Linked DNA regions of Homo sapiens. The protein of the gene in region 1 purifies or fractionates together with the protein of each later gene. This does not show direct contact. Each region holds a gene or a part of one and is shown in the gene's direction. Other genes may lie near its edges. The genes, in order: KLHL6, OBI1, GCN1, BOP1, ALMS1, ASPM and MCCC1.

What was found.
Region 2: the proteins of KLHL6 (region 1) and OBI1 purify together in Homo sapiens (affinity purification with mass spectrometry, with the first as the bait; one large-scale study listed by BioGRID). This does not show direct contact.
Region 3: the proteins of KLHL6 (region 1) and GCN1 purify together in Homo sapiens (affinity purification with mass spectrometry, with the first as the bait; one large-scale study listed by BioGRID). This does not show direct contact.
Region 4: the proteins of KLHL6 (region 1) and BOP1 purify together in Homo sapiens (affinity purification with mass spectrometry, with the first as the bait; one large-scale study listed by BioGRID). This does not show direct contact.
Region 5: the proteins of KLHL6 (region 1) and ALMS1 purify together in Homo sapiens (affinity purification with mass spectrometry, with the first as the bait; one large-scale study listed by BioGRID). This does not show direct contact.
Region 6: the proteins of KLHL6 (region 1) and ASPM purify together in Homo sapiens (affinity purification with mass spectrometry, with the first as the bait; one large-scale study listed by BioGRID). This does not show direct contact.
Region 7: the proteins of KLHL6 (region 1) and MCCC1 purify together in Homo sapiens (affinity purification with mass spectrometry, with the first as the bait; one large-scale study listed by BioGRID). This does not show direct contact.

Annotation. Positions count from the first base shown.
Region 1 is NC_000003.12:183,486,570-183,490,567, reverse strand, and holds the end of KLHL6 (kelch-like protein 6), read left to right. Parts: 3' UTR 1-3,017; downstream 3,018-3,998. UniProt on the Homo sapiens protein: Involved in B-lymphocyte antigen receptor signaling and germinal center formation.
Region 2 is NC_000013.11:78,616,868-78,621,709, reverse strand, and holds part of OBI1 (ORC ubiquitin ligase 1), read left to right. Parts: intron 1-4,384; exon of another isoform or gene 4,385-4,587; coding exon 4,588-4,842. UniProt on the Homo sapiens protein: E3 ubiquitin ligase essential for DNA replication origin activation during S phase.
Region 3 is NC_000012.12:120,128,176-120,133,017, reverse strand, and holds part of GCN1 (stalled ribosome sensor GCN1), read left to right. Parts: intron 1-995; coding exon 996-1,092; intron 1,093-1,684; coding exon 1,685-1,833; intron 1,834-2,264; coding exon 2,265-2,372; intron 2,373-3,523; coding exon 3,524-3,742; intron 3,743-4,842. UniProt on the Homo sapiens protein: Ribosome collision sensor that plays a key role in the RNF14-RNF25 translation quality control pathway, a pathway that takes place when a ribosome has stalled during translation, and which promotes ubiquitination and degradation of translation factors on stalled ribosomes.
Region 4 is NC_000008.11:144,284,093-144,288,934, reverse strand, and holds part of BOP1 (ribosome biogenesis protein BOP1), read left to right. Parts: intron 1-4,842. UniProt on the Homo sapiens protein: Component of the PeBoW complex, which is required for maturation of 28S and 5.8S ribosomal RNAs and formation of the 60S ribosome.
Region 5 is NC_000002.12:73,607,752-73,611,384, forward strand, and holds the end of ALMS1 (centrosome-associated protein ALMS1), read left to right. Parts: intron 1-723; coding exon 724-823; intron 824-1,816; coding exon 1,817-1,861; 3' UTR 1,862-2,165; downstream 2,166-3,633. UniProt on the Homo sapiens protein: Involved in PCM1-dependent intracellular transport. Required, directly or indirectly, for the localization of NCAPD2 to the proximal ends of centrioles.
Region 6 is NC_000001.11:197,104,662-197,109,503, reverse strand, and holds part of ASPM (abnormal spindle-like microcephaly-associated protein), read left to right. Parts: intron 1-4,318; coding exon 4,319-4,842. UniProt on the Homo sapiens protein: Involved in mitotic spindle regulation and coordination of mitotic processes.
Region 7 is NC_000003.12:183,016,354-183,020,084, reverse strand, and holds part of MCCC1 (methylcrotonoyl-CoA carboxylase subunit alpha, mitochondrial isoform 1 precursor), read left to right. Parts: intron 1-2,747; coding exon 2,748-2,819; intron 2,820-3,731.

The DNA of each region.
Region 1 (3,998 bases):
CCCGAAGTGCTGGGATTACAGGTGTGAGCCACTGGGCCCGGTCTTTTTTTTTTTAAATGATCATAAGATGGCCCATTTTGGACCGGAACTGTCATTGCCAGACAGAATTGTACCTTTAGCACATTCTGGTGCCCTGGCCTCTTAGTGTTCACCAGTTGTACTGCAATATAGACAAGATGTCTCTAGAGACTCAAACTACTGTTTTATTAAAAAAGTAAACACCTGAGCACAGCTGGCCTACACAGGAGCGACAGATTCTCCTTGATGGTACACTTTCTAGTTTTTACACAGTGATTTAGGTCCACGTTCCTGATACCCCATCCTCCTGAAGCCTTCGTTTTCAAGACTTTTAAAAAGCACTTCTACTTGGTTTTTTGATCAGTGTAGCTCAATTGTGACTTAAAGAACAGAATCTGTCCTTCACTGTAAGAGCTACAGCTTTCAAATGAGCTCACTGGAAATTCATTCTAATCCCCAAGCTGGAGAAACAGGTTAAGAGATCCTGTTTCATATGCTGTATTTAAAAAGCAACAATGATAACAACATAGTAACTGCGTTACCCAATGGACTTTATTTTCATCATATGATTTCAATTCTCTTTATAGAGTTTTATTTCATATCCGGTGTGGCTTGTTCTTTTCAGCAGTTTGGGAAGTTAGTTATTAGAGTTGATAGTGAATTGAATTTTCATTAAACAGTCACGGTTAGAAGAAGCTAATATTTGAAACAGATTTTAAAAACTTGAAAAATTACAGGTGAGATTTCTGTTTATGCCAGATTATTGAAGATAAATATAAATGTATGTTGGTGTGTGAAATGCTCTGTGCCTTAGAAGCGTGACAGTTCAGCTCTCTGCTGTGGAAAGTAACACAGGGCAATAGAAACATATTTGTGGAATTTTAGAACAAACTATTGCTGACTCATGAGCACTATAATAACCATCAGGAAGCTCCCAACTGAAGCAATGTAACAGTGTAATCTAGTTCAATTCAGCAAACATTCATGGAGTTCTTCATGTCTGTCAAGCCTTGAGGACACCCACGAATGGCAAATCTCCACGCTAGACACTCAATACAGGTAAATAGGCCACCAGTTAATATTCTTGTTTTTATTTTCTTCAAGTTAGCTAAAAATGAGATGCGTATGAAGTGAGGAGGCTGGATCCAAGTCTTGATTGCCTTTCAGGGGGTCAAGGTGGTAAGCTGTGCAGTGAAGTCAACCAGTGGCCATGGCTTACATGTTTGTCTCTTTGAGATCGCCACCAGAACCATTTGTGAACTGATTTGTGAAGGAAAAGTCAGTCTTACTCCAAAGACTATTGCAGGGAGGAACTTCCAGAGAGGAAATCCAATGACAATGGTACTGGCATACACAGGGAGCCTCCCTTCAAAAAGACAGCGCCCCTAGTCAGGGAGGGGATGGCGGTCCTTTGATAAGACCCATAGGCAAACTTCGAGCCCATCAGCAGGTCAACCCTATGCTGGGAAAGTGAGGATTTGGGATTTCTGTGCTATAAACCTGATTCTAAATGTAGGACCCAAGTTTCTGGACTACTTCAGAATACCTAAATGAATCATGGAAACACTCTTTATGATTTTTTACAACACCAGATATGCAGGTGAATTGTGGAAAATGTCATGTAGCTGACACTCAAGAAATAGGGATTCCTAATAATGGCATGGGTAGGGAACAGATACACCTGGTTAGAAGGTCTAGGGTTCTGTATATGAAGCTGCCAGTCTGTAGCTCTTCGAGAAAGAAAGTTCAAGTCATTTGGGGGAAACTTAAGAATAGTCATCAGGGTTTTAGCTTCTAGGCACCAGCCAAGGATGAGAACTTCTAAAATCTAAAATCCATTTCAAGAAATAAAGACGAACACATTTGCAGGAAGGTAACTGTTATAACCCACACCATCAGCAGGGGGAAAGCCAAGCTGAGAATAAACCCAGAGACAAAGAACCCTCGGACTCAGGCAGGACATGGCAGGATGTTCTGGCACAGCAGACTGGAGACTGAGGCAGGGCCTGTGAGTGGACAGAGCACCCCTGGCTGGGAAGAAGAAGATGGGGTAGGAGGAGGTCAGGTTCCAAGGATGCAGGTCTGGAAAATGATATCGGAGGCCCTGGAGTTTGTGAGCTTGGCTCTAGTCCCAAGAAGGGTGAGGGAGAATAAGGGTAAGGGAGTATTCTAGGCAAGGAACTAAGGAAGGAATCCCCTTCTTAGAGCAGAGGCACAAGTTAGAGCAGGCCCAGCATTTGGGCCAACTTACTGTGGGGCCTCTGAGCTGCTCAGCTGGGTCTCCTGTCCTAGAGGGAAGGTGGCCCAGAGTCTTTGGTGGAGCGGAATCTGTAGATGAGGTTAAGGGACTCCAGTTGCCAAGGTTGATCTGAAACAGGCAGGGAGCTAAGCTCATCAGAACACCAACAGATTCATGTTCTCGTCTTAGCTTTCATCTATTCTGGTCTCAATGGCTTCGGGAAACACACATATACACATACACCATGCCCTTGAACTCAAAGCAAACTACGCTCTCAGGGAAATACAAATATCACGTTCTTATAGCTGTAAAGTATAGCTTAGCTATTTATAGAAGACTATGAGGTACTGTTGTGAGTTATTTGCTTATCCTGTTTTATTCTGAAAAATGAAAGTGCTCAATAGAATTTTTAACGTTGGCAACACCATAAGGATTTCTTATGTTAAGTCCCAACTTGGGGTTGCAAAATCATTTTTTCCCTTAATACCTGGGTGTTGTATTAGATCTCATAATTTGACAAGTTAACCTTTTAGAAATCCACATATATCTCAAATCTGGCTACTGCAAAACCAGTTTTGACAGGTCAGATTTTCATATGTATAGGTATAAATAGCCAACACTCAGTGAACAAAATCCTTTAAGCATTTTGGTTACATAAAGTTGTATGTTTTAAGTGATCAAACTAAGAATATTGTTTATAGGTTTTAAAAACCAAACCAATAAAATTTTTATTTATTCAATAAAATATGCACAGAACAGATGCAAATGTGTTATATACAATCATGAAGTTTTTTTTTTTTTTTTTTGCTGTTTTTAGTTTATATAAATGAGTGGTGTCTGAATAGAAATTAATTTAGAAGGTGGAAATTTAAAACGTTTCATTTGGTTCATGGGACTTTAGATAAGTTCATAGGTTAAAATTCACCAGGTTTGATTTATAGAATGTCAAAGAGTAGACAGATTTTCCCTCCCTAAAGATGCATTGCCTCGCTGAGCAAGCTTTTACCAACCCATATGCAAACTGCGTGACTCTTCTCTTGCCTGGCCTCAGCTCTTCTTACAGGAGACCCCCTTCTAGGTTTTTGATTACAGGTCTGACCTTTTAGCCTGCGTCCACCATTGTTCCTGTGTTGTCTCTGAAGCCCTCCCTGGTCTGTGCTTCTCAAATTGGGGCACGTGTAACTTGGGGTATGAGACTTCCCTTTAATCACTGGAAACCTTGTTATCAATTTAGTTTGTTTTGGTTACAATGCAAGACTCCTGTGTATTTGAAAAGGAAAATCAGAGGCTTTAAAGAAATCTGGGGTTCCATGAATAGCTTCAGACCTTCCCCTCTGGGCATCCCCAGAGGTAGATGTTCTGCCTTAGGACTTCTTGGTGGAAACCCTTGGGAATCACAGACCCAGCTTCCTCACTGGTGGGGAATGTTCTGGAGTGATCTTGGGCCCTGGATCTGAGTGCCAGTGCACCAGCTGTGAGTCAAACGGAGTTTTGACCTTAACTTTGCTGCTGAGCCTTCCAATTTCCCCGCTGGGTCTAAGTGATAATCTCATGTCTGGGCAGTTTGGCCGGGGCCAGGCATCTGCCCAGCTTTTCTTAGTGCCTCCCCCTGCACCAGCTCCTCCCTGCTGGTGTATGGCATCTTCTGGACCAGCTCCTTTTCACTGGACGTGCAGCCTTCATACAGGATCTCAGTTCTCTCCCGCCCTCCATAGGCCCATGCCTTATGTTCCGTTCCTGC
Region 2 (4,842 bases), on another chromosome or scaffold:
CTCTACAAAGTGCTTCTGGCATATCTAGAATTTCTTGAATGGACTGACATTGTTGTAATATTCCCACAGTCAGTGATTTCTTCCATAACTACATTTACATTTGATTTCAATTTCACTTCCAATGTTATCATTGTTTATTTCTTTGTTACACCTTCATCTTTGTTGACCAGTTCTGTCGTTTTATTAACTGTTTTTGTGAAATGTCATGCGGGTTTTTTACTGGGAGACAAGGAGCAGCCCAGCTGCACACTTTGCTGTCTGTATGTTAACTGAAAAACAGGTAAATGCACAGTGACTAATCACTGACTGACCTTGAAAGAAGTGACTTGATGGGTCACTGATCATGAAGCACGTCTATTATTTATGTAGTGTTTTTTGAACTGAAAAGCTAGAAGTGAAGGTTTTACTTCATGCAGTTACTCATTAATAATGGTGTGGTAACTGAAATTTGAACCATATTGTTGGGTGACTTGTAAATTAAACCATGGTAACTGAAATTTGTGCATATTGGAACCATATAAAGCAAGGATATCAACACTGAAAACCTGTCAGATAGGCCACACCACAAAAGCTGGTCCAGGTCCAAAGATAGCTTTCGCTTTGTTTCATTACCTCAGCTACCAAGTGAGGGAAACATATAAAGTCAAAGTTTGATGAGGCAAGTGGACTGACTTCCCCAATGTCCCCCTTGTTCCTCCTCAAGAAGGCATTTCTGAATTTTGGCAGTCTTGGCCACCCACTGGGCTTGCTGCATTTACCCATTTTGTTGGAATTGCCATTGAGAACCAGAAAGGCAAAGTGAATTGCTCAAGGATAGTAGCGTAGCACTAGAGCTTATTAGTTTTTTGGTACTCAGGTGTGGTATTCTTTTACCACATTTGTTTTCTTCAAACACGTCCTGTTTTTCTGTGTGATAGACTATGAGAAAATATGGTCTTAGGAACTTTTTGTTGTTAGAGATGCTCTTTAGTTTAGTTATACCACCTCAAAGGTCATACCAATAGGACTTCCATTTCTCTTTTACTAGGGACAGAAATGATCTTGTATCTCTTAGAGCTATTTGGACAAGGGGAACTGGCATCCTTTTCTCTCTCATCCAGAATGTATGTATCAGTTAATATTGCAAGCTGAAAAATCCTTTAAGCTTCTGTTAGATTCTGGCAGAATACAGTTCCGATATCAATTGTAGCTCCCAAACTGCTCTGCAGTGTTTTTTCTGGCACAATGAAGCCTTTGGCCATCACTGCTACTTTGAAAATCAAAGCCTTTTGGTCTCTAATGGAATGTTTATAAAAATACTCCATTTTGAAATTTACTCAAGAAAAGGAGGAAGTATGGTAAATGATATTAGAAATCCCTCCGGCTTGCCTTGGCATAGCTTCATTTAGTGTTGTATACTCCAAATATCTAGAATTAGTGTGAATACAAAAGTATTAAAACCCAAAGATAAATAAGCTCATGTCCTTCTTCTATGGAAGTATAGCATCAGATACTTATCCCTAATTGTTATTTCTCTATAATAAGGTAAATTGCCCTTTGCCAAATTTAATATAGTTATCTTGGATAAGCTGAAAATTTCCTGACACATGTCAAAAGTCTCATCTATTTGCAGTCTTACTAAGGTGAAGTTTTTTGGGGTGGAGCAGTATAGAATGTCAAGCCTGTAGCAAAAAAGGCTGTACTGTACATATGTCAGTCTCTGTTGCTTTCCTGGGTGTCAGTGAAATAAAGTAAACAGTCAAATGTAGTAAACAAAACATGTTTACTTTAGTAATACAGTGACTGTCATAATACTTAACATGTAAAAAGAAGGCCAAGGACCTTTAGCTTATCCTGTGGTGTCAACCCTGTCTCAATGTAAGGCACTAGTGTATCTTAAAGTAAGAGAATGACTTTTATTCAAGAAATACACAACAGGCAAGTGCCGTATACCAGGAATTGTTCTAGGAATCTGGCAGTGAATATAAGACAAACTACCTGCTCTCCTTGAGCTTCTATTCTAACGTGGGAGAAAGAAAGCAAATAAATTACATGAATTGATTAATTGATCAGTTGCATGGCTTTTAGTATACATTTCTGTCAGTCTGCCAACCAGCACAGGTCCCTTATTAGCATGGGAGAAGGGCCTGATCACTGAAAGTATTATAGATTTATAGAGTATTGAAAGGAAACTTAAGGAAATTGGGGGCAGTGGCCTTTTAGAAAACAGCCTAACTCCATCAGTGACTTCTGCTTGCTTGTGCCTCTCATATGTGATCTGCTACTGGCCTTTGTTACTTCTCTCTGAAATAACACAAAAATTATGTTTAGGGCTCTCATTGACTTCAACTCCAAACCATATGTTACTTCTTTTAAAAACATAATTTCTAAAAAAAAAAAATATATAGAGAGAGAGAGGCAAATACAGTATCTTAAGATGATACTATATTTGAAATTCCAAGCTAAAACCCTGGAACAAGAAGCTGGTAATATTTTGGGAAGCATTCTTTATTTTTGAGTAGTCTTTCTGTGTGTAGGCCTCTAAGTTCCCAAAGATATCCTTTGGTAGCAACTGACTTACTATGTAGTAGCATTATTTGATTTTAAGTCATTTGATTTTTTTATCTGAGGAGATACCTTTATTATAAAAAATTTTACTTGAAGAAATTTATCTTGATAAGCAAATGTAAGGCTGTCACTTTTGCTTATTGGCATTAAATAAACATACTACAGTTTTTCCATTTAAAAATGTGGGTTATTTGATTATGCCAGAGTAGTTACAATCAAGAACTAACAAACATTTGTACTTAATGTACTGAAAGGTCTTTGCCCACTTTTTAAAAGTTCTCTTGCAGAACTACAACTCTGTGAAGTACTACATTTATAAGCCAAAACATTTTTAACAAAGAAGAAAAATTCCCATCATTCATTTAACCAAATACAGTAGTAAACTTTGTCTTTAAAATGGGGAGGCTTGTTATTATAGTTGCTTTTGTTTTTGTTATACCTGTGGTTTTTGCTGTGTTTTTTTAGAAGTTGAAGGGAGCGTGCTCTCTCTGGGGGTTCAGTTAATTGCAGTGAGTAAATCAATATTCAGCAATCATGTCTTTTAAAGCCCTTTCTAATCTTGAGATTTTATGATTCTATATTTACCTTTGCCTCTGCTTTTTCCTTCAGTGATAAGAGTGCAGGGATTATGTAGGGGTTGAGATGGGGAATGAATTGGGCTAGTGGTTTAGGAGGTGATGGGCATTAAGTGGGAGTTGAAAACATGTTGTGGTTGATTCTAAGAGGGGCAATTGCTATTGGCTTCTGCTTTTTTTGTAGTTTTTTTTTTCAATACTAAATACATGTTCTTAATTGTAATTATTTTTCAAATTAGGGGAAAAAAGGAAGAAAAAGATAAACCCAAAGATAAAAATAATTTTTGAAAGTCACCTTCTCATAGCTTCCTCCAAACAGACAATCCCTTAATTCTTAGAAATGGGCCAATATATAAATCATCAAAAAGATGATTAAGAATAGGCTTTGAAAAGAATTTTGGAGGAGATAAGGTATTTTTCACGGGATTATGTTATTTATTGGCTCATAAGTTTCCTGAAAGATAGAATTTATTTTTGGTGATAAGATTGAATTTAAGGTAGATATTTTATGTCCCTTGGAGCTAGACAGTCTTTTTTATCTTTTGTGTTCCCAGCCCCAAATATACCACCTAACCTATACTAGGTACTCAAAAATTGTTTCCTGAGCTTAACACAGTACTCATTCTTGGTGGAAATAACAGCAAGATAATCCCGGTGTAAAAGGAGTAGACTTTTTGTGAATAAGGGAATTCTTTTTCAGTCACTCTCCAAAATGTTCTCTTTCAGAAAGTGTACAAAAAAATTTTTTTTTTTGCCTAGTATATTGGAATCACAAGCACTGACTTCATATTTCAAAGTTGAAAGAAATGAGATAGATGTCCCACACAGCTGTAAAATGCCAAAAATAAGTAGTGCTGACATAAATTAAAGGCCAGTGCTCTGAAAAGCCACAGAAAAGCTTCAGATCAAGGGTGGCTATAATTGAAAGGGCCCAAATAAGTATTTAAAACCACCCCTCCTGGGACTGCTAAGATTTCTGAATTTCAAATTGGCATTTTATGTTTGACAAGGTGACATTATATAAGAAATGTATTGTAAAACACTGCTGTATGATAGGAAAATGATTGAATGTAAATATTTCAAGATGTAGACCACTGTTCAAATGTTATCATAAATCTTTGCCATTGTTTTAGGGGATAACTCTTCATGCATATATGAGCTGAATTGATACAGCCAGCTCTTCGAGGGGAAATCATCAGCACATTTCTGCCTCTCTGCTACCATAGATCTGATTTAACCACAAAAATATCCTATTAGGTTTTGCTATTATTATCATATGTTTATTATTATGTAAGTGGGGAAACCATTTTTTGAAAATATACATCTGGCATTTGCCCTACTCATTGAGTGGTCTGAAATGTCACTGTTAGGTGAAATTAGAATAGCCTGGGACAGTTTGCACTCTCAAACCTTGAAAAGAAAAAAGCTTGAGTTATAAGATTAACTATCTTTCCATTCTTTGTAGGTTTGGAAGGTTTGCAGTTGCTGCTCTTCAGTCCAAAGTAGAACAGTATGAGCGTGAAACCAATCGCCTCAAGAAAGCCCTGGAACGAAGTGATAAGTATATAGAGGAACTAGAATCTCAAGTTGCACAGCTAAAAAATTCAAGTGAAGAGAAAGAAGCTATGAATTCCATTTGCCAGACAGCACTTTCTGCAGATGGCAAAGGGAGCAAAGGCAGTGAGGAGGATGTGGTGTCAAAGAATCAAGGCGATAGTGC
Region 3 (4,842 bases), on another chromosome or scaffold:
CAGTGCAAGCAAAAGTTAGTATTGAAACATATTTGCATTTTACCACAGTGCAGCTTAAAATAGATGAAGTTGGAGAGAGTCGGTGTCAGAGCCAGCTTTAGCTTGGCACCTGGGCTTCTGCTTCGAGCTCAGAGGCCCAAACTGCTGGCAGTCCATTCTCTTACCCTCTGAACCTCCACTCAGATTGAAGGTGGCAGTTCAGGGTGCCAGCCTGGCATTAGCTTTTTGGGTTATTGAGTCCCTGGTTGGTGGTTTGTTTTGGGGACATGTTGAGTTGGCACCTGTAATAAGGAACATAACTTAAAATCCTCTCTTGGTATTCCATAGTTAGCTGGCCAGGGAGGAGCACGGAGCCGCTCGCGTACCTGGCTCTGATTTGAACAGGAAGTGCTTGCCTTTCCTTATCTTCCTTGGCTTGATTAGTGGCTTTAGTTTGACTTCCTAGGATGAACCCAAGTAATTTCGGTGGCAGTGGGGCACTCATGCAGTAGGGAGATAGCAGGAGTCATTCTGGCCACAAGATGACACAAACTCTGTGGGAGAAAGGAGCTCAGAGTGGCCGTCTCTAGCCGGCTTCCCTGGTGGCTGGGGGCAGGTGCCTCCCCTCCTGCCCCTCCCGCCCCTCCCTGCCTCACAGGGCTGTTGATAGTAATTGAGATAATAAATATGAAACATTCAGCCTTCCTAAGAAGAAAGATGCTATGTAAATACAGTTATTACTGCTATTACAAGGATGATTACCATATGCATACACACTGGGGTTTTCTATAATTAAGTGAAGTGCTGGCTGTGTAATGTTTAACTCCATACCAGTGGCAGCCCAATCTGGCAGGGGAGCACGAGTGCCTACAGGAAGGACTGGATCTTGAGTCTCTGAGTTGGCTTTTCCACCTTCTTTGTTGCTGTCCATCCTGGGCTCTAGAGCTGCCTGCCTTGGTTCCCACACAGCTGGTGTTGTTCCCTGCACCCCCTCACTCCCTTCTCTTCCCTGTCAGGACAACACTCGCATCTCCTCAGCCGGGTGCCTAGGGGAACTGTGTGCCTTTTTGACTGAAGAGGAGCTTAGTGCCGTTCTACAGCAGTGCTTGCTGGGTAAGTACACTGGAGAGTTCCCCTTCAGGGACCTGGGCCTCTCAGCCCTAGCGAAGAGTCGACGGGCATCTCCCTCCCTCCCTCAGAGGATCTTTTAGCAACTGGACTGTCCTTTCCTTGGGAATCCAGCAGTTAAAGCAAAATCCAGGCCAGGGGTGGTGGCACTCACCTGTAGTCCCAGCTACTCAGGAGGCTGAGGTGGGAGGATCAGTTGAGCCCAAGAGTTGAAGGTTGCAGTGAGCCTTGATCACGCCCCTGCACTCTAGCCTGGGCGACAGAGCGAGGCCCTGTCTCTAAAACAAACAAACAATACTGAATTTGCAGTGGTCCCGTAGCCCTGAGTGTCTCTGCTCAAAGAACACAGCTGTAAGCCCGGAGTGGTTCATGAGCAGGCTTTCCTTACTTTCCTTAATGTGCCACTTTGGGGAGCTTCTGCCAAGATAGCAGGGAGGTCCATGTGAATGTGGCCTGGAGTTTTCCTTGTGCTCTGGGTCAGCACACTGGTCTCCAGCGGGGTGGGCCCATGGGCCTCATGGGTGCTGGGGACATGCTGTAAAATACCGGTTGATCCCAGTCGTGTCCTTCCACCCAGCGGACGTGTCCGGCATTGACTGGATGGTTCGGCACGGGCGGAGCCTGGCACTTTCCGTGGCTGTGAATGTGGCTCCTGGCAGACTTTGTGCCGGCAGATATAGCAGTGATGTTCAGGAAATGATCCTGAGCAGTGCCACGGCGGACAGGGTAAGGCATTCGGGCCATATCCCATAGGCATAGGCCACATCCCATAGGCAGCACCTTGTGGACACAGCGCGGGTGGACCCCAGACTGGGGCTTAAGAAGCTTGGGTCTAATTTTACCTTTGTCAGTAACTTGCTGTGCCCTTGGACCAGCACTTGATCCCTTTGGGCCCCAGTTTCATCATCTAAACAAGGAATTTGGGTTGAAGAATCTAGATGCCCCTTCTGGGTCAGGTCTTGGATCCCTGTTCCTGGGAACCAGTGACTGTACTCATCTGCCTCAGCCGGGGCAGCCTGCCTGAGAGCTGTCATGGTGTAAGGGGTGATGTGGTGGTGATGTAGTGGAGGGTCCTGGAGATTACTAGGAACTGGGGTTTTCCTGGCTCTGGGGAAGGGGTGGGGGGCCTCCCGTCTAGCGCTGTCTGTTCTCCACAGATCCCCATTGCGGTGAGCGGGGTCCGGGGCATGGGCTTTCTCATGAGACACCACATCGAGACAGGCGGAGGGCAGTTGCCGGCCAAACTTTCCAGCCTGTTCGTTAAGGTGAGTGGGGGCCAAGCATGTGTTTAAGCCCTAACACCTGGCTTGTGAGGAGGTCCTAGGATCAGAGACCACCAGCAGTGCGCCCTCAACTAGTTGTGTGCTAGTTCTCCGTGGACGGCCTCCAGGAGATCGCTGAACACTTAGGGATGGAATGTAGGGGGTTTCTGTGTGTGCTTTACACTGCAATAAAGCCTAACTTTTTGTCAGATTCTCAAATTGACCCGTGACTCTGAATCAAGTTAGGAATCGCTATTTTAGGCATTCTTTCTAGGCACCGTAGTTTTGTAAAATTAGATACAGACCTGGGTTCCCATCTTAATACCTCTCTTTTCCCTCCTTCCTCTTCTAGTTGGCCCAGCACTTCTTGGTGTGGTTACTGTGCTATGTGCCAGGCCCTAGTTAGGAAAGCCAAGGAATGTGCCAGCAGGGCTCCTGTGGCCCGTGTGATATGGCGTGCTTCTGAAGCATTACTGTGCACAGAAGTCAGAGCCAGGGTGTATTTTAGTGAGATGGGGCCATGCCTGGTACTCTAACCAGCTCTCAGCAACAGTGTCAGTGGTGCTGTGCATGGACCTTGCCTTGAGTAATGAGGTTCCCAAGAGTGACTGCCTCCCCCCGCAGCACCGGGAACCCACGGAGTTTCTGAGGGGCCTGATTCGATTGAGCCTCGTCTGTGATGACATCAGCCTGCACCCGCTTGTTCACTTGGCATTATCCTGAAGGTGTAGAGATGAACAAGGCAGACAGGATCCCTGGAGCCCATGGGGAGGACCCTGATATAGATAAGATTGGCAGGGGGCACCTCTAAAGGATGACATGGGAGCTGAGACCTGCAGGATGGGAAGGAACTAACCTAGAGAGGATCCGGGGCAAGCACGGCCCAAGCTGTGGGACCAGCCAGGGCAGAGGCCCGAGGCCCTGGGATGTTGGAGGAAGTAAAAACGCATGCGGGCTGAGAGTAGTGAGCAAGGGGAGAGTGGCATGAGATGAGGGTGCAGGAAACCAGGGTCGAGTCATGCTGGGACCCTCCCACAGGAGCAGGGGGGGTCAGTGTTCATGCTGTAGGGAGAGTGTCGAGGCTGGGCATTTGGGCTGCTTCAAGGAATAGATGACATGCCTATCCAAAAGCCTGTTTGTGGTTCTTTTTACAGTGTCTGCAGAACCCATCCAGCGACATCAGGCTGGTGGCTGAGAAGATGATCTGGTGGGCAAATAAGGACCCACTGCCTCCCCTGGACCCCCAGGCCATCAAGCCCATCCTGAAGGCTCTTCTTGACAACACCAAGGATAAGAACACCGTGGTCAGGGCCTACAGCGACCAGGCAATTGTCAACCTCCTCAAGATGCGGCAGGGTGAAGAGGTGTTTCAGGTGGGAGCCTGGGGGGCCTCACCAGGATGTGCTGTGAGCATTTGTCTTTCAGCTCTTCTTCAGCATGGAAATATTTAAACCACAGGCTCTTCTCTGCCACCACGGATGTGCTAGCTTTCAGGAGCAGATTAAGATTTGGGTGACTGGGGCCGGGCGCGGTGGCTCGCGCCTGTAATCCCAGCACTTTGGGAGGCTGAGGCGGGCAGATCACCAAGTCAGGAGATGAAGGCTAACACGGTGAAACCCCGTCTCTACTAAAAATACAAAAAAATTAGCCAGGCGTGGTGGGCGGCTTTGTCCCAGCTACTCAGGAGGCTGAGGCAGGAGAATGGCGTGAACCCAGGAGACGGAGGTTGCAGTGAGCTGAGATCATGCCACTGCACTCCAGCCTGGGCGACAGAGTGAGACTCCGTCTCAAAAAAAAAAAAAAAAAAAAAAGATTTGGGTGACTGGCCCAGTACCTGAAAACATACATTCCCATGGTTTTCAGACTTCTTTCCGAGCAGGGCCCTTTCTTCAAATAAAATCTCACATGACACCCAAACAGACATAGCAGATCCCAGGAGAGCTGCCCAGAGGAAACCCAGAGTTGTGTTCACTCAGTCCCCAGCCCCCAGCAGCCTTGAAAGCCCAAAAGCTGGCCAGCCGCGGTGGCTCACGCCTGTAATCTCAGCACTTTTGGGAGGCCAAGGTGGGCGGATCACCGGAGGTCAGGAGTTCGAGACCAGCCTGACCAACATGGAGAAACCCCGTCTCTACTAAAAATACAAAATTAGCCAGGTGTGGTGGCGCTATGTCTGTAATCTCAGCTACTCGGGAAGCTGAGGCAGGAGAATCGCTTGAACCTGGGAGGCGGAGGTTGTGTTGAGCTGAGATCGTGCCATTGCACTCCAGCATGGGCGACAAGAACGAAACTCCATCTCCAAAAAAAAAAAAAGCCCAAAAGCTGCAACTCCCACTGCCTCGTCTCATGAAAAGCATGATGGGGCCAGGTGCGATGGCTCATGCCTGTAATCCCAATACTTTGGGAAGCCAAGGTGGGAGGATCACTGGAGCCCAGGAATTCAAGATCAGCCGGGCAACATAGGGAGACTCTGTTT
Region 4 (4,842 bases), on another chromosome or scaffold:
TGGTTTCCATCCCCAGTTGCGTGCCGTTCCCAGGAACTCTGAAAATCCACATGCCTAGGCCCTTCCCCGTCAGACGATGCTCGGGCAACCCTCCTGGCAACAGGTTGGGTTTCCTTGAGGTGGGGATTTTACTGCTTGGAATCCAGTGGCAGGACCCAGCTGAGGAGGGAGCTGAGCAGCATGGCAGGGCTCAAGCAGGCGGCATGGGGGCCCCAACGGAACCCAGCTGGGCCTGACCCCACAGGGCTTCAGGGGCCTGAGCAGCCGACGGGTAGAGGGTTTAACATTGTACCTGTTGCAGCGATGGTGGGGGAGGATGCACCCTACTCTTATTGAGAACAACAGGAGAAAAGCATAATTTAACTAAAACACAGCATTTGTTATTTTTTTTTATTTTTTATTTTTTTGAGACAGAGTCTCACTCTGTCGCCCAGGCTGGAGTGCAGTGGTGTGATCTTGGCTCACTGCAACCTCCATCCCCTGGGTTCAAGTAATTCTCCTGCCTCAGCCTCTCTAGTAGCTGGGATTACAGGTACATGCCATCACGCCCGGCTAATTTTTGTACTTTTAGTAGAGACAGGGTTTTGCCGTGTTGGCCAGGCTGGTCTCGATTTCCTGACCTCAGGTGAGCCACCACGCCCGGCCTATTTTTTTTTTTTTTTTCTAAGACAGAGTCTTGCTCTGTTGCCCAGGCTGGAGTGCAGTGGGGCGATCTTGGCTCACTGCATCTTCCACCTCCTGGGTTCAAACAATTCTCCTGTCTCAGCCTCCTGAGTAGCTGGGATTACAGGTGCCCACTACCAGGCTCGGCTAATTTTTTTTTGTATGTTTAGTAGTGACGGGGTTTCACCATGTTGGCCAGGCTGGTCTCGAACTCCTGACCTCAAGTGATCTGCCTGCCTTGGCCTCCCAAAGTGCTGGGATTACAGGTGTGAGCCACCGCGCCCAGCCCAGCATTTGTTACTCTAAACATTCTGGAAATCGTTTGTAAGGATTTACTCTCCCAGTAGTTTCGGTGTTCTGGAAGTTACGGCCTTGGCAGAGGTCCCCGTGATAGAAGCCAAGGAACCATGGCTTGTTCATTGTGTGCTAGCTGTGTTGGGTTGGCTTGTTTGCTGGGAAGAAAAGATTTAAAATCACACTTAATTCAGGCTTTAATTATACCACTAACATACACAGAGAAAAAATGATGTGCTGTGTTGGCAGTGGTTTGTAAGATTATGGACAACTACGTTACCCCTTCTTGAGTTTTTAAAATGATACAATACTGGGCCAGGCACAGTGGCTCATACCTGTAATCCCAGCAGCTCGAGAGGCCAAAGTGGGAGGATCTCCTGAGCCCAGGAATCCAGGTCACAGTGAGCTATGATAGAGCCACTGCACTCCAGCCTGGGTGACAAGCAAGACCCTGTTTCAAAAAAAAATTATGAGATAAAACATCCTGGAAAATAATGTAGATATTGTAGCAGCACCATTCAGTAGGGTGGAAGCTCCCACTCAGGGCCCTCACACCTAACCCGTGAGCACAGTTAGTGGTCTGGTGTACATCTTTCTGGGTCTTCTGTCCCTTTTTAAATTAAGGATTTACACATTTACATGTTAATGATTTTTTTATTAAATTCTTTCAGCGGGCGTGGTGGCTCACGCCTGTAATCCCAGCACTTTGGGAGGCTAAGGTGGATGGATCACCTGAGCTCAGGAGTTCAAGACCAGCCTGGCTAACATGGTGAAACCCTGTCTCTACTAAAAATATAAAAATTAGCTGGGCGTGGTGGCGCGTGCCTGTAATCCCAGCTACTCGGGAGGCTGAGGCGTTAGAATCACTTGAACCTGGGAGGCGGAGGTTGCAGTGAGCCGAGATCTCACCACTGCACTCCAGTCTGGGTGACAGAGTGAGGCTCTGCCTCAAAAACCAAAACAATGTTTTCGCATAATAACATATCCAAGTACTTGAAAGGTACTAGAGGTGTCTGCGGAGTCTAGGGAGGCGCCATCTTCTCTTCTCGCTGCTTGTCTCCTGGCCCCTGGAGCACCAGGTCCTCTGCACTGCTGAGTGTGTGCTTGTCCTGCCCATTGCCCTGCTCGGGTTTCTGTGACCGCGTAACTGGCTGCCCCATGCAGGGTGTTTTCCAAAGTACCGCTGTCTGTGGTCTGTGTGCTCCGTCATCCAGCAGGGCCTGAGGTGGCAAGGCCGGCCGGGCTGGTGGGGCGGTCCTCAGAGTTCCCCACGCTGCTGGCTGCCCAAGTCCCTGCCTGAGGCCCTGCCCTGTTGTGGCGCTCATGCACCTGCCCGCGTGTCCTGTGCTTTAGCTGAGGGGCCGAGGCCCTGCCCTGCCATGGCGCCCGTGCATCTGCCCGCGTGTCCTGTGCTTTAGCTGGGAGGCCGAGGCCCTGCCCTGCCGTGGCGCCCATGCACCTGCCCGCGTGTCCTGTGCTTTAGCTGAGGGGCCGAGGCCCTGCCCTGCCGTGGCGCCCATGCACCTGCCCGCGTGTCCTGTGCTTTAGCTGAGGGGCCGAGGCCCTGCCCTGCCGTGGCGCCCATGCACCTGCCCGCGTGTCCTGTGCTTTAGCTGAGGGGCTGAGGCCCTGCCCTGCCATGGCGCCCGTGCATCTGCCCGCGTGTCCTGTGCTTTAGCTGAGGGGCACCTTGGGCCCTGTCAGGGTGTTTTCAGTTCTAAAGTGTGATCCTCATGACTGGGTTTAAATTCTTCCAGGTCAGGAGAATGAATTGATGAGGTGGGGGTGCTTTCAGCTTCTTAGTGGGAACCCCTCCCTTTTCCCCCCTGTTCATCAGAAGCCACCCAGGCACCTTGGCCTGCTGAGCGGCCACTCCCTCCTGCCTGCCCTCCGCGCCCCTCTTGAATGGTGGGAGTCCTTTCCCATTGTGCAGCCCTGCAGGTGGAAACTCAGCCGGCAGCCCAGTGCTGCCTCCTGCATGTTCTCTTGGCTTCCATGAGCGTGGCCACGTGAGGCCTCCCAGAGTGCCGCCAAGATGGCCCCGTCATGCCCAGTTAGTGGCCTCAGGTTAGGCCTGTTTCTGTGTCATCCCGAAGGCAGTCCAGGGCTCCTTACGCCTGTATCTCCGCCACCTCCCACTCGCATCGTGGGTCCACGGGGCCGGGCCACCAGGGGCTCTGCCAGACACCCTCGCCCGCCACAGCCATCTGGAGGATTCTGCCCCCGATGCCCCTGCCAGTGGTTGTGGGTCCTCAACCCAAGAACCCTTCCGTTGAGCGGCTTCTAGAATCAGTGCCCCTTGGTTCTGGGAATTCACACCACAGTGACACAGCAGCTTCTCCTGCTGCTAAGTGTCCTTGCCCTGCAGTGGGCGCACCTGGGATTCTGTGGTCCTGGCCACGGCCACTCGTGTGGTCTTGCAGATGGTTCATGGGCCTCGGTGGGTTACTTGGTAAGTGAGGGTAATGTCTGCCTGGCAGCCCCTGAAGGACGAGATGATGTTTTTGCTAATTTCTCTTCTGCCACGTGCTTCTGCCTGTCCCCCCACTCCCTCCTGTCGCTGTTTCCTCCACAGTGGTTGGCAAGACGTGGCCCCTGTGGCCTCTGCCTCGTGCATCTGAAGGACATCCCAGCCACAGCATCACATCAGACTGGAACAGTGGCGGGATGGGGCTGGGCATCAGGCAGCATGCATGTGTCATGTCACGGACACCTCAGGGACACACGAAGTCAGGCAGGGCGAGGGCCTCACTCCCCAGGCCGCCTAGCCCTTGGTGGGTATACCCGGCCCCGATGGTGCTGTGAAGAAGGGGCTGTGTGACTGGCATGGGAGGGAGCTGCGGCTTTTGTTCATCTCTGCCATCCTGGCAGCGATGTGGCTGATGGGTCACCTTCAGAGAGCCTCCTCCATAAATCTGATTCCAAGTGTGTGCCCCAAACCAACCCAGACCGGCCCGGGGCGTCCTGCGGAGAGCCCCACAGTGGGAGGCCCTTGTAGCGGGGAGCCCGGTGACTGCTGGGGGTCAGCTGCTGGCGGCCCCTGTGGAGACCTGGCGACCTGCCAAGGGCTCCGGACCTGCCTGGGTGGACCCAGGGTGGGCGTGCTTCTGGCTGCAGGGCCGGGCCACAGGCTTCCCTCTGGCTTTCTGCCCTCAGGCCTTTAGCATTGACATGCACACGACCCTGCCTCCTTTCTAAGGACTGTGTAGAATTACGTGGCATTCAGTGAGCAGCTGCACGTGGTGTTCTAGGGCACCTTTGGATGCTCAGGTGCTCCTGAGGGGTGTGCCAGGGAACGAGTCTCCTACCCTTCCCTCCTGGCTCCTGTTGCTGCATCCAGGCAACTACTGTTTCCAGTGCTGAAGTCTCTTTCCAGGATGTTCTAGACATATCCAAACTCGCACAGAGTTTTTGAATGGTGGTTTCTTAAGAGAAGGGGCAGCCGTGCGCTGTCTCAGGATGGTTCTGTCAGGGAGGCCATGGCTCTGGTTTGTACAGTGCTTGGTGCCCGTAGAGTGCCTGGCAGCTCGGCCTCAACAGCTCCAGTGGGTGGGCAGTTGCAGGCTTTTGCTCTTACAGTTGACCTGACAGTAACATGCTGTTTCTCACATGTGCACACCATTCTTGGGGAAAATTCCAAGAGAATTTCTAGGTCAAAGGATAAATGCTTTTTTTTGTTTGAGACAGGGTCTCACTCTGTCACTCAGGCTGGAGGGCAGTGGTGCGATGTTGGCTCACCAAAATCTCAACTTCCTGGGCTCAAGGGATCCTCCTACCTCAGCCTCCCTGGTAGCTGGGACTACAGGGTCCCCGCCACCATGCCTGGCTAGTTTTGTTTTGTTTTGTTTTGTTTTGTTTTTTGAGACAGAGTCTCGCTCTGTCGCC
Region 5 (3,633 bases), on another chromosome or scaffold:
TCCTGCCTCAGCCTCCTGAGTAGCTGAGATTACAGGCATCTGCCACCATGCCCACCTAATTTTTTTTTTTTTTTTTTGGTGTGTGTGGTTTTAGTAGAGACGGGCTTTCACCATCTTGGCCAGGCTGCTCTTGAACTCCTGACCTCGTGATCCACCCACCTCAGCCTCCCAAAGTGCTGGGTTTACAGGCTTCAGCCACTGCACCCAGCGCTCCTATCTATTCTTAAGACCCAACTTACCTATAATTTCCTCTCTGGAGCCTTTCCGAACCTCCTTCCACCAGACCAAGTTTCTTCTCCTCTAGAACATTTTATAGGTGTGACCATTTTAGTACTTTTCCATAATTTCACTTGTGTTTCCAAACACAATAGTAACGCTGTTCATTATCTTATATTGAAACAGTCCATTTTTGCATGTAGAGCAGAAAGTAGAAGTTCAGCTCTCCTTCATTTATCTCACTCCTTTCCCCCCTTTATCCCACTTCTTTCCACATGTAAGCACTATTAGGATTTTATTGTGTTTGTATTTATCTCCCCTTCCAGATTGTGAGCCCCGGGCTAGGGTTTTCTGTGCTGGAGTATCTAACGGGGCCCAGGGCCTTTCTGAGAGGGATGAGCTCCTGGAGAGTGGGAGGTATAGGGAGGGATGATGAGAGGAGATCTCATGACTCTGCACCCTGGTAACCTCCCCGATTTCTGTCCTTTCACTGGTGCCATTTCTAAGGATTTATGAGCAGCTTCCAGAAGTACAGAAAAAGAGAGAAGAAGAGAAGAGAAAATCAGAATATAAGTCATACCGGCTGCGAGCCCAGCTATATAAAAAGGTCAGTGGGTCCTCTGTCTAGAGTGGGATGGATCAGGTTTATTGGCGGAAAGAGAAATGGAGAAAACACGTTGCCTGTTGAGTGTGAAGTCAGAATGAACCGCATTTGAGGAATGAACTTAGAATGCACTGGACCAGTGTTGAAATTTGGAAGAAGGCATCTGTAATTAGACTTCAAATCAGGTTTAACTCCCCATCCATAATGGTGTAAGGCCCTTTCCATGCATTCGTTTGCAGTGAAACCAAATTTCACACACAGGAGTTCATTGACATATCATGGTAGAAATACCAGAATTATCAGGTTTCCATTCCAGAGTCCCAGGTGGTGATTTCATGCCCCTCATTGGTGAGTCAGATACCTTTAGAACTGTTAAACTGGAAAATGTGTAACTGCGGCATAAGAGTTGTCCACTTGGATGGTCAGAGGCCTCCAACTTGTCACCATGCCCTGCCCATTGTCCCAGTAGAGTCAGCGTTGCTGCAAGTCCAAGAACCTCACGGGGCAGGGTTGGTGTTACCAGTTAATTCTCTGAGAAACCAGACCGGCTCCTATGCCTGAAGGGCCATATACTTCACTGTAGTTGTTTCCTTCTCACCCTGTCAGTCACCAGACTGATGTGGGATGGGAGCTGCTTCTGGAGCAGGCCCCAGAACCCAGGCGGGTGCCTCAGGTGGAGGCCCCAGGCACCACACCACCTGTCTGGTGTGTCAGCATCGCAGGGCCAGGCCTCTCCTTATGCTACTGTATGTGGGAACTGATGGATTATCTGTGTCTCTATAGAAATAATAGATATTGATTACAGATCCTCTTTCCTGAACCTTTCGTGAAGTATTTTTTATATGACGACCATAGTTTCTGAAGCAGAGTAAAATGAACAAGATTTGAATAGGACCACACTGATTCTCCTTGGTGACATGGATGCAGGGAGGAGAGGCATCTGCCTCTGATGGCAGTAATATCTAACTTCTTTCCTGCCTTTCTTTTCTTCTACAGAGAGTGACCAATCAACTTCTGGGGAGAAAAGTTCCCTGGGACTGACACAAGTTTATTTTCCTCAGAGCCTTGGAATTCTATTTTATGAACCTAGAGAAGCAGAATCCTTACTTTTGTGAGTCTGGTTGAATAAAGCTTATTCTTTGTCCATGTGTATTTTAGAAATAGTAACTTCTAAAGAGTCTGGAACAAAGTGGTGATTAAAATTCCTAATGGTTTGGGAGCAATACTTTCTGCATAGTGGCCTTGTCCAATGGCCTGTGTGTTACAATGATATGATCATTTCTCAAGAATAAGTCCCTTTTTGTATGTGTTTTTATACTTTTAGAAAATAAAAACTTTAGATTAACTCATAGTAAACAATTCTTTCCCATCTGGAGAGATGCAAGGAGCTATGCATTGTCTCCACCGAGGTGTCTAAATGCATCAGTTGAGGGAAATGGGCTCTTAGAAGGAAATGTAGCCTGTATCTTTAGAAACACAATGTGCTGTAGTGGGAGCACTGTTGTGGGCTTTGAGGAGACGGTGTCTGGTTAGATGCCCACCGGGTGCACCCAGAGACTGCAGCAGGAGAGGTGTCTTGGGTCCAGAGCCTCCTTTCAGCCCCAGTCCAGCTCCCCCAGGGACTCTCTGTGTAGGCTGGGGAGAAAGGCCACTAGCCTTGGCTGATGGATCTTCCTCCACCCACACTCGGTTTTGGGATTAAAGCCTCAGACCATTTATCATTACACGTGAAACCAACACTTACAACATAAAGGACAACTTGTGAAAAAGATGAGTCAATGAATGAGATAAAGCATTTAACCCAGTAACTGGATCAGAATGTAACAGGATTTTTTTTTTTTTTTTCATGTGGCCTGGAATTATAGCTAAGGCCCAAAGTAATGGAGGAAGGTTTTCAACAGCCTCACTCTAAGTTCAGCAAACCCCAGTACAAAGATTGGCAAGGGCCAGTCATCCACCGAGAAGGCTTCCTGGGAGGCTGGATCCAAGAGCAGGCCCTGCCCTCAAGCACGGTTCAGAGCTTTCAGATCCTGCCCCCTGGGCTCCCTGCCATGAAGAGGACACTGGGAAAAGAACCCATGGTGCATGAGGTCAACTCATAGTTCTTCCCTTTCTTGCTGGGCAAGGTAATGAAGCACTTTTGGCCAATTTACCTGTAAAATGAGAGGGTTAATACCTCTAAGCCCCTCTTTACATAAACTCTAAAACAATGTGACTATTTCCACCTCTTGTGAGACATTATTATTCAGAATAGAAACAAATTGTTGTCTCAAACCTGGGTCTGCAAAGAACCCAGGGCAAGATGGAGTCTGATGAGGAATGATGAGCATGATTCTCTCTAGGCCCAAGGCTGTGGCATCCAGACACCTTCCAAGGGCAGTTAGATTTGGTCCTGGGAGGCCCAGGTGGCAGGTGCCAGCCAGCTCCTCCCATTCCCAGCCAGGGCGCACCTCCTCAGGAGAACTTGTTAGCATCTTCACTGGGTTCCTTTAAACCAGAAATCTATGGACTTGCTTTCACATTATAACAGTATTCCCCCAGGCCACCAGCCATGGGCATGTTCCCAAGGCAATGTCAACGCACAGAAGGTGGCAGGAAGGGGACATATTGTGGAGAGTCTCACAACTGCAGTCTACCTGCTTGTCCTATGCCAGGAGACCTTTGGCTGAGTGCAGGCTGAAGAATCCAGGCATCAACCTCACAATCCCAGGGACTCCCTCAGTGTCCGTTCTGCCCCAGAGCTCAGGATGGCTTCCCACACTGCACAGTTCTGTGGGGGCTGAGAGCACCTGCTACAAACCACAGAGTCACTA
Region 6 (4,842 bases), on another chromosome or scaffold:
TTTATCAGGTTGAAGGAGTCTCTGTTTCTTAGCTTACTGAGAGTTTTATCACATAGATTTGGGTTTCATTAAATACTTTTTCTGCTTCAATGGATATATTAACATTTATTGGGTTTCTAATCTTACTGTAAACTTACATTCCAAGGATAAAATTCAAATATTAGTTATGTATTTTTTATATGCATTGATATTTCATTAATTCCACTTGCTAGTATTTTATTGAAGAGTTTTGCATCTGTGTAATGAGTTGGGAAGTTTCAGCGTTCTTTTATGTTTTCTGGAAGAGATTGTTGACATGTTATTATTTTGTCTTTAATTATTTTATACAACTCACCAGTGATACTATCTTAGAGTGGAAATTTCTATTTTATTTTATTTTTTTCCTCTTTTTTTACTTGACATAATTGTGCATATTCATAAAGCACATAGTGATGTTTTGATACATATACTGTATAGCGATCACATTAGGACAATTAGCATATTCATCATCTCAAACATTCTTCTCTGGACTTTTTTTTTTTTTTTTTTTTTTGGAGACAGGGTCTTGCTCTGTCGCCCAGGCTAGAGTACAGTGGTGCAAACACAGCTCACTGCAGCCTCAATCTCCTAGGCTCAAGCCATCATCCCACCTCAGCCTCCCAAGTAGCTGAGACTACAGGCATGTACCACCACACTCAACTAATTTTTGTATTTTTTGTGGAGATAGGGTCTCACTAAATTCCCCAGGCTGGTCTCGAACTCCTGGGCTCTAGTCATCCTCCTGCCTTGGCCTCCTAAAGTGCTAGGAATACAGGTGTGAGCTACTACACCTTGCCAGATTCTGTTTTTTAAATTTGTATAGGACTATTTATCTTTGATGAGTTTTGGCAGTTTCTAATTTTCGAAGAATTGGTCCATTTCATCCAAGTTGTTGAATTTACCATATGTATATACAAAGTATATCTTTAATATCCTTTTGATGCCTGGGTAGTCTGTAGTGATATTCCCTTTTTCATTCCTGATATTGATAATTTGTATCTTCTCTTTTCTTCTTTGTCAGTCTTGCTAGAGTTTTAACTCTCTTGATCTTTTCAGTGGACAACCCTTTGGCTTCATTGGTCTCTGCTCAGTCTTTATTATTTCTTGTTTTGATTAATTTTGCTTTTCTGTCTATAGTTTCTTTAAGTATAATCTTGAGTAACTGATTTGAGTCCTTCCACTTTTAATGTAACACATTAATGGTATAAATTTTCTTCTAAATACAGGTTTAGCCACATACTACAAATTTTGATATGGTATTTTTTTTTCATTCAGTTCAAATAGTTTTTAATTTCTCTTGAGGCTTTTTCTATGATTTAAAGTTTCAGAATATGTTATTTACTTTCTAAATGTTTGGAGATTTTCCTATTATTTTTCTGTTAGTGACTTTTTCTTCAATTCCATTATGACCAGAGCACATACTGTGATTTCAATTCTTTCCTATTTGATAACCTTTAGTTTATGATCCACAATATGGTCTATCATGGTCAGAGGTTGGTATATCTGCAGGCCAAATTTGGCCTACCATGTGTTTTTATAAATAGAGTTTTTTAGAATATGGTCACAACTATTTGTTTATGTATTATTTGGGAGCTGCTTTTGTACTACAATAGCATAATTGACTTGTTGCAACAGAATTGGCCCACAAAGCTGAGATATTTGCCATCTTGGCTGTCATCTCCATTCTGCTATTGTGCCATACCAGTGAATTTTTATTTTGGTTAGTGTGTTTTTCGGTTCTACTATTCTCACTTGGTTCTTACTCATATCTTTGATGTCTTTACTGAGACTTTTTATCTTTCCATTAGTTTCAACTTGTTGTAGCATTTTTACTTTATCTGCTCTAAAGTCGTTGTCAGTTAATTCCAATTCCAGTATCTTTGTCATCTCATCATTGGTGTCTATTGATTATCTTTTCTTGTGAGAGTTGAAATTTTTCTGTTATGTTGTATGTCAAATAATTTTTAATTGCATTCTGGAAATTTAATGTTATGTTATCAGACTCTATGTTTTGTTTAAATCCTATGGAGAATGTTGATATTTTAGTTTTAGCAGCTAATTCACTTGATTGGGTTCAGGCCACCTGTTCTCATCAGCCTTCCATGAGCGTAGCTTCAGTGACAGTTCCTTTTTGAAAGCCTTTACAGTGAGTGATATTTGTATCATATCAGTTTCATTATGTAACACCCAGTAGCCAGTCTGGGATCTAGATTGTGATCTGTATCTTATTCAATTCTTAAAGTCTATAGCCTACTGTGGTCTAGATTCACATTGTGCACAACTTGGTGGTGAACCTAGAAATTCATAAACAACATTATCAGATTGCTTCCCTGAGCTCCCCAGTCTCTACCATCTCCCTGGTACCCTCTAGTTCCTCAGGGCTGCCTTGTTTCATCATCTGACCAGAAAACTGAAGATTGAGTTACACTGCTCTACTGCATTCTTTCCATGACTGCGCCCATATCTCAAGCAGAGAAACTCTTTTGTATGAGGAAAAACAAAGTATGGCACAGGTTATAGTTACTGGGAGAGATGAAGAATTGGGCTGTTAATGCACTCAACCTGCTGCAGATATCTGTGGTAGAGTAGAAAGAACATTTGATTTTGGTGTAATAATGTAGATCCTAAGATCAATTATTTTTATTTGCTGTGGGACTTTGCAAAAAGTTTTGTAACATTAGTGTTCCTTTCTTTAAGTGAAGAAACAATGCCAACTTAATGTATTTTTGTGAGAATTAAGTGAGAAAATTGTATGTAATGTGTTCCTTAGTAAAAGCTATTTATTTTTAAGAATTGTATGACAATGGTGAAAAAATTGCTATTGTAATAAGCAAAACTGTTAGGAGAGGAGATGATCATATCTTCCATGTTATATATCAACATTGATTAACATTTCAGTAATGGAGTAGTAATAGTAATGTAGAAAAAGTGATTATTAAAGTATAAAACAATCTGTACACACTGATTCTTCAATTTCTTAGTTTGAGGATTTTACATAGAAATATCTGTTGGGGGTGGGTGCTCAAAAGAAAAATAATATCTGAATTTCTGAGTACTATTACTGCTTTACTTTGCCCTAATTTAAAGCAAGTTAATACTTTATGTAGAGTTTATTGTTTTCAAAATACTTTTGTACAAATAAGTTTGACTGTTGTTGGATAAATATTTTGACAACTTGTGCATCTCTTCTTGGTAAGATAAAATGTATACAATCATTTCCTGTCAGGTTGAAGAGTATGAACAAAACCTCAGGTAACATTTAGTAGAGGAAGAAGACAATAAAACTTACAGGAAAAGGGTCAGGAAAAGGGATGTGCATGTTCTCCTTAAGCTTCCTCACCCATGGATAGGTATGCTTAGGCCAGTGATAGCTGCAAGCAAACTCGATACTGCTATAGGAGAGCGAGGTACCCAGTCCCTATATTACTCTACTTATATGCGAGAAAAAGTAAGATGTAGTAGAGAACAACCTCTCCATGCCACCCCCAATCTCAGCAATGTTTGGAGTGTTTGTACAAAGGAATGGTCTTATTGCTAAAACATCTAGAACTTGACTACCATTAGCCTGGGACCATTTTAGATACCAGCAACTGGAATTAGCTTGAGAGTTTGTAGCTCTTTTTGTTGAGCCAACATACAGTTGGATTAGCCATTGTAACCATGGCTTTTCAAAAGACAAAAGTTTTGTCATTTCTCAAGTCTTTCTAGAATTCTACTTTTAAGCCATGTATTTATAGTTCCTAAATTTGGGAAAAGGAAGTAATTTTATTCTTAATGAAAATAATGACTCTGAGAGTGATCTGGTTTATTTATTCCTAAATTCCTATATTTATATTATCAGGCCTGTAATGTGATAATGCAGGATCCTTCACATAAACAGTTTCTAGTCATTATAAGGTAGCTTAGAAACATTGAAGTAAGGGGACCATATAAGGCCCAGAAATAAACTCATAGGAAATTACTTAGAATCAATAGATAGCAAAGAATATTACTATAGTTTTATTTTGACTCTTTTGCTTGTAATATAACATAAACTTGCTTATGTTTCTTATGATTCTGGCATACAAATGCAGTATTTAAATATAATGAAGATTTGGATGGATTTCTGAATTGGCTACAGGTATATCAATGTAAAACCTAAACTAAAAACAAAAGAGACAAATATCTCACAAAAATAATTAGTTTTCTAATTCAATGTGTTTATTTTTAAGCAGAATGTTAGAAAAATTAGTATTTTGAAAAGTGTTAAATATAGAAAGCTATGCCTATTTTACTTTGTGTCCTTTCTTACCTTTTCCAGGGATATTGGAGAAGATATTCCACTAGACAAAGATTTCTGAAATTGAAATATTATTCAATCATCCTGCAATCTAGGATAAGAATGATAATTGCTGTTACATCTTATAAACGATATCTTTGGGCTACAGTTACAATTCAGAGGCATTGGCGTGCTTATTTAAGAAGAAAACAAGATCAACAAAGATATGAAATGCTAAAATCATCAACTCTTATAATCCAATCTATGTTCAGAAAATGGAAGCAACGTAAAATGCAATCACAAGTAAAAGCTACAGTAATATTGCAAAGAGCTTTTAGAGAATGGCATTTAAGAAAACAAGCTAAAGAAGAAAATTCTGCTATTATCATACAATCATGGTATAGAATGCATAAAGAATTACGGAAATATATTTATATTAGATCTTGTGTTGTTATCATTCAGAAAAGATTTCGGTGCTTTCAAGCCCAAAAGTTATATAAAAGAAGAAAAGAGTCCATACTAACCATCCAGAAGTACTACAAAGCATATCTGAAAGGAAAGATTGA
Region 7 (3,731 bases), 470 kb from region 1:
CGTGGCTTTGTTAAACTTGTCATTTATGTCCTTTTCCCTTTCTAAACCTTGCTCATTGGAAAGCATCCACTTCACAAAAACAAGAGGATCTATTACAGATTCAAATTGTTTATTACAGTCCTCACTGAAAATACCCATTTACCTAATTTATGAAAAAGACTGCTGTTTTTGAAGGCAGGCATTTGCATCAAAGTACAAATAATCTAAATTGTCTTTTTATGATTAAAACTGAGCATTCATTAAGCATTATTCAAAAAAGCTGGTTTTGAATGTTAAATTTAATAGCAGCAAATTTTTCATGAAATAATGACATTTTCTTTTAGTGTACGTAGTTGCATCTGCGTTAATGTAAAAGGCTGGTATTGGTGAAGAACAGTACGGTTTGGTGTTGAATGCAGTATATAATTCACAGTTGCAGTCCATACTGTCTGAGTCAGTTCAGGCTGCTAGAACAGAATACCATAGACTGGGTGGCTTTTAAACAATAGAAATTTATTTCTCACGATTCTAGAGGCTGGGAAATCCATCAAATCACCAGCAGATTAAGTGTCTGGTGAGAGTCTACTTACCGATTTCATAAACAGCCATTTTTTCTCTGTGTCCTCACGTGGTGGAAGGGACAAGGGACCTCTCTTCAGGCCTCTTTCATAAGGGCACTAATCTCTTTCATGAGGCCAGATCCCTCATGACCTAATCACCTGCTAAAGGCCCCACCTCCAAATACCATCATCCTGGAGGTCAGGATTTTAACAAATGAATTCTGGAGGGATATAGACATTTAGACCCTAGCACATACTGATATAACATCAAATGGTGATAGATCAGTATCCGTAGTCTCCTTTTATATACTTGAATACAGTAGAGTCTCCTCAAATACACTTAAATCATAAAAACTCAACTGTATATGCTTGGAACAAAAAAAGAAGAAGAAGAAAATAACTACTTAAATAGTGTGGGTGATTTCAGCCACTATTCTCGTTTGGAAATATTTACCCCAAGTGGGTATGAGCTAGGAGACCTGGATCTGCCTTTAGCTCATTTGATTTCAGTTCCCACAGGCCTCTCATAGTGCAGGCATCTCTGCACAACTCTGTTAGTCTCCCACTTAGTAGCCATGTTAACCAAAACGAAAGTGAGACCATATAGGATCTATGAGTCCATTTATATGTATACAAAAGAAAATAGAAATCTCTTTCTGGGGTTGCTAATAAGTTTGATTCTGTTGCATGAAGATTGTCTTCACATTTACTACACAGGGCTCTGAAGACTTCAAACACACTTACTATACTTAGCCCTAGACAACCCCAAAACAAGAAAACCAGTCAAGACCCTCATCCCTCTTCCCTCTCTGGGGAAGACATTTAAGTATATTAGTCCTTCCCTACTGGCAATGTGTCTTGTTTCTACATTCTTGAAAAAAATGAAAGGATTTCAAAATACATGGAGTATATTCATGTGATTCAAGTAAAACTAAGTGGTTTTGTGGGTGGGGACAGGGGACTAAGCAGTGCTACCCATGGACGACAGTGCCAGCAATGCCAGATTGACCTGTAGGGCTCTCATTTGACTAGTGCATTTGGGCTGTAGGCCTCTGATTTGACCAGTGCATTTGACCTGTAGGCCTCTGATTTGACCAGTACATTTGGGCTGTAGGCCTCTGATTTGACCAGTGCATTTGACCTGTAGGCCTCTGATTTGACCAGTGCATTTGGGCTGTAGGCCTCTGATTTGACCAGTGCATTTGACCTGTAGGCCTCTGATTTGACCAGTACATTTGGGCTGTAGGCCTCTGATTTGACCAGTACATTTGACCTGTAGGCCTCTGATTTGACCAGTGCATTTGGGCTGTAGGCCTCTGATTTGACCAGTGCATTTGACCTGTAGGCCTCTGATTTGACCAGTGCATTTGGGCTGTAGGCCTCTGATTTGACCAGTGCATTTGGGCTGTAGGCCTCTGATTTGACCAGTGCATTTGACCTGTAGGCCTCTTATTTGACGAGTACATTTGGGCTGTAGGCCTCTGATTTGACCAGTGCATTTGGGCTGTAGGCCTCTGATTTGACCAGTGCATTTGACCTGTAGGCCTCTGATTTGACCAGTGCATTTGGGCTGTAGGCCTCTGATTTGACCAGTGCATTTGACCTGTAGGCCTCTGATTTGACCAGTACATTTGGGCTGTAGGCCTCTGATTTGACCAGTACATTTGACCTGTAGGCCTCTGATTTGACCAGTGCATTTGGGCTGTAGGCCTCTGATTTGACCAGTACATTTGGGCTGTAGGCCTCTGATTTGACCAGTACATTTGGGCTGTAGGCCTCTGATTTGACCAGTACATTTGGGCTGTAGGTCTCAGATTTGACCTGTACATTTGGGCTGTAAGCCTCTGATTTGACCAGTGCATTTGACCTGTAGGCCTCTGATTTGACCAGTGCATTTGGGCTGTAGGTCTCAGATTTGACCTGTATATTTGGGCTGTAGGCCTCTGATTTGACCAGTGCATTTGGCAGATGGCACAACCACATGGGCTCTACTTCTGCTCTGTAAGTTTATATACCAAATCTGTGGACCACAAAGGACCTCTGTGTTGTTTTTTTTCTTTTTATTTATGTTTTATTGTTTATATTCATGGTTTGCAACATGATGTTATGAGTATATATAGACAGTAAAATGGTTACTATAATGAAGCAGATGAACATATCTAGGACCTCTGTGTTTTCAAATATTAACCTGTCACACTGAATCTCAAGGTGTTTGTCAAAGCTGGAGACAAAGTGAAAGCGGGAGATTCCCTCATGGTTATGATCGCCATGAAGATGGAGGTAAGGAAATCATGAGTTCATTTGCTATGAGGACTTTGGGAGCAATCATACCTAATGGTTCTTTTGCCTTATTTTGTAAGTTAATACCACCTTAAATATGAAAAGCCATGATTGACGAAGCATTAATTGTAGGAAACAAAACCAAACTATCCTTCTTGTAGAAAAGAGTTTTACTTTAACTTTGTGAAATTGCACCTGTCATTTCTGATTCTGAAATTAATGAAATTATCAATAGCTTGGAATCAGGCGATAATCCAACTGAATGTTAACTGTTGGTATTTTCTAAGATAATCCAACTGAATGTTAACTGTTGGTGTTTCTGGAATGTTAACTGTTGGTATTTTCTAATGTTAACTGTTGGTATTATCTTGGTTCTAAGGCCGAACCAAGGATGCCAGGCATCAGTTTCAAAGTGAAAACCGCAATCAAATTAAATTAGCTGTTTAGGTTTTTAGATGGTTCAAATGGTAGGTCAGTGATTCTTAGCCCTGGCTGAATATTGCAGACAGTCCTCAACTTACAATGGTTCAATTAAGGATTTTTCAGCTTGACAATGGTGCAAAACCATACACGTTGAATATGCTCCTCAGCTTACATTGGATTTATCTGGACCTGACCCCATCGTAAGTCAAGGAGCATGTGTACAGTCACCTGGGGAGATTTGAAAAAATTCTTCCCCAGACCCATTGAATTGCAATCTCCAGGAGTAGAGCCCAAGGATCAATACTTTTGAAAGGCTGGGCGCAGTGGCTCATGCCTGTAATCCCAGCACTTTGGGAGGCAGAGGCAGGCGGATCATTTGAGGTCAGGAGTTCACGACCAGCTTGGCCAACATGGTGAGACCCCATCTCTATTAAAAATACAAAAATTAGCCAGGCATGGTGGTGCATGCCTGTAATCCCAGCTACTCAG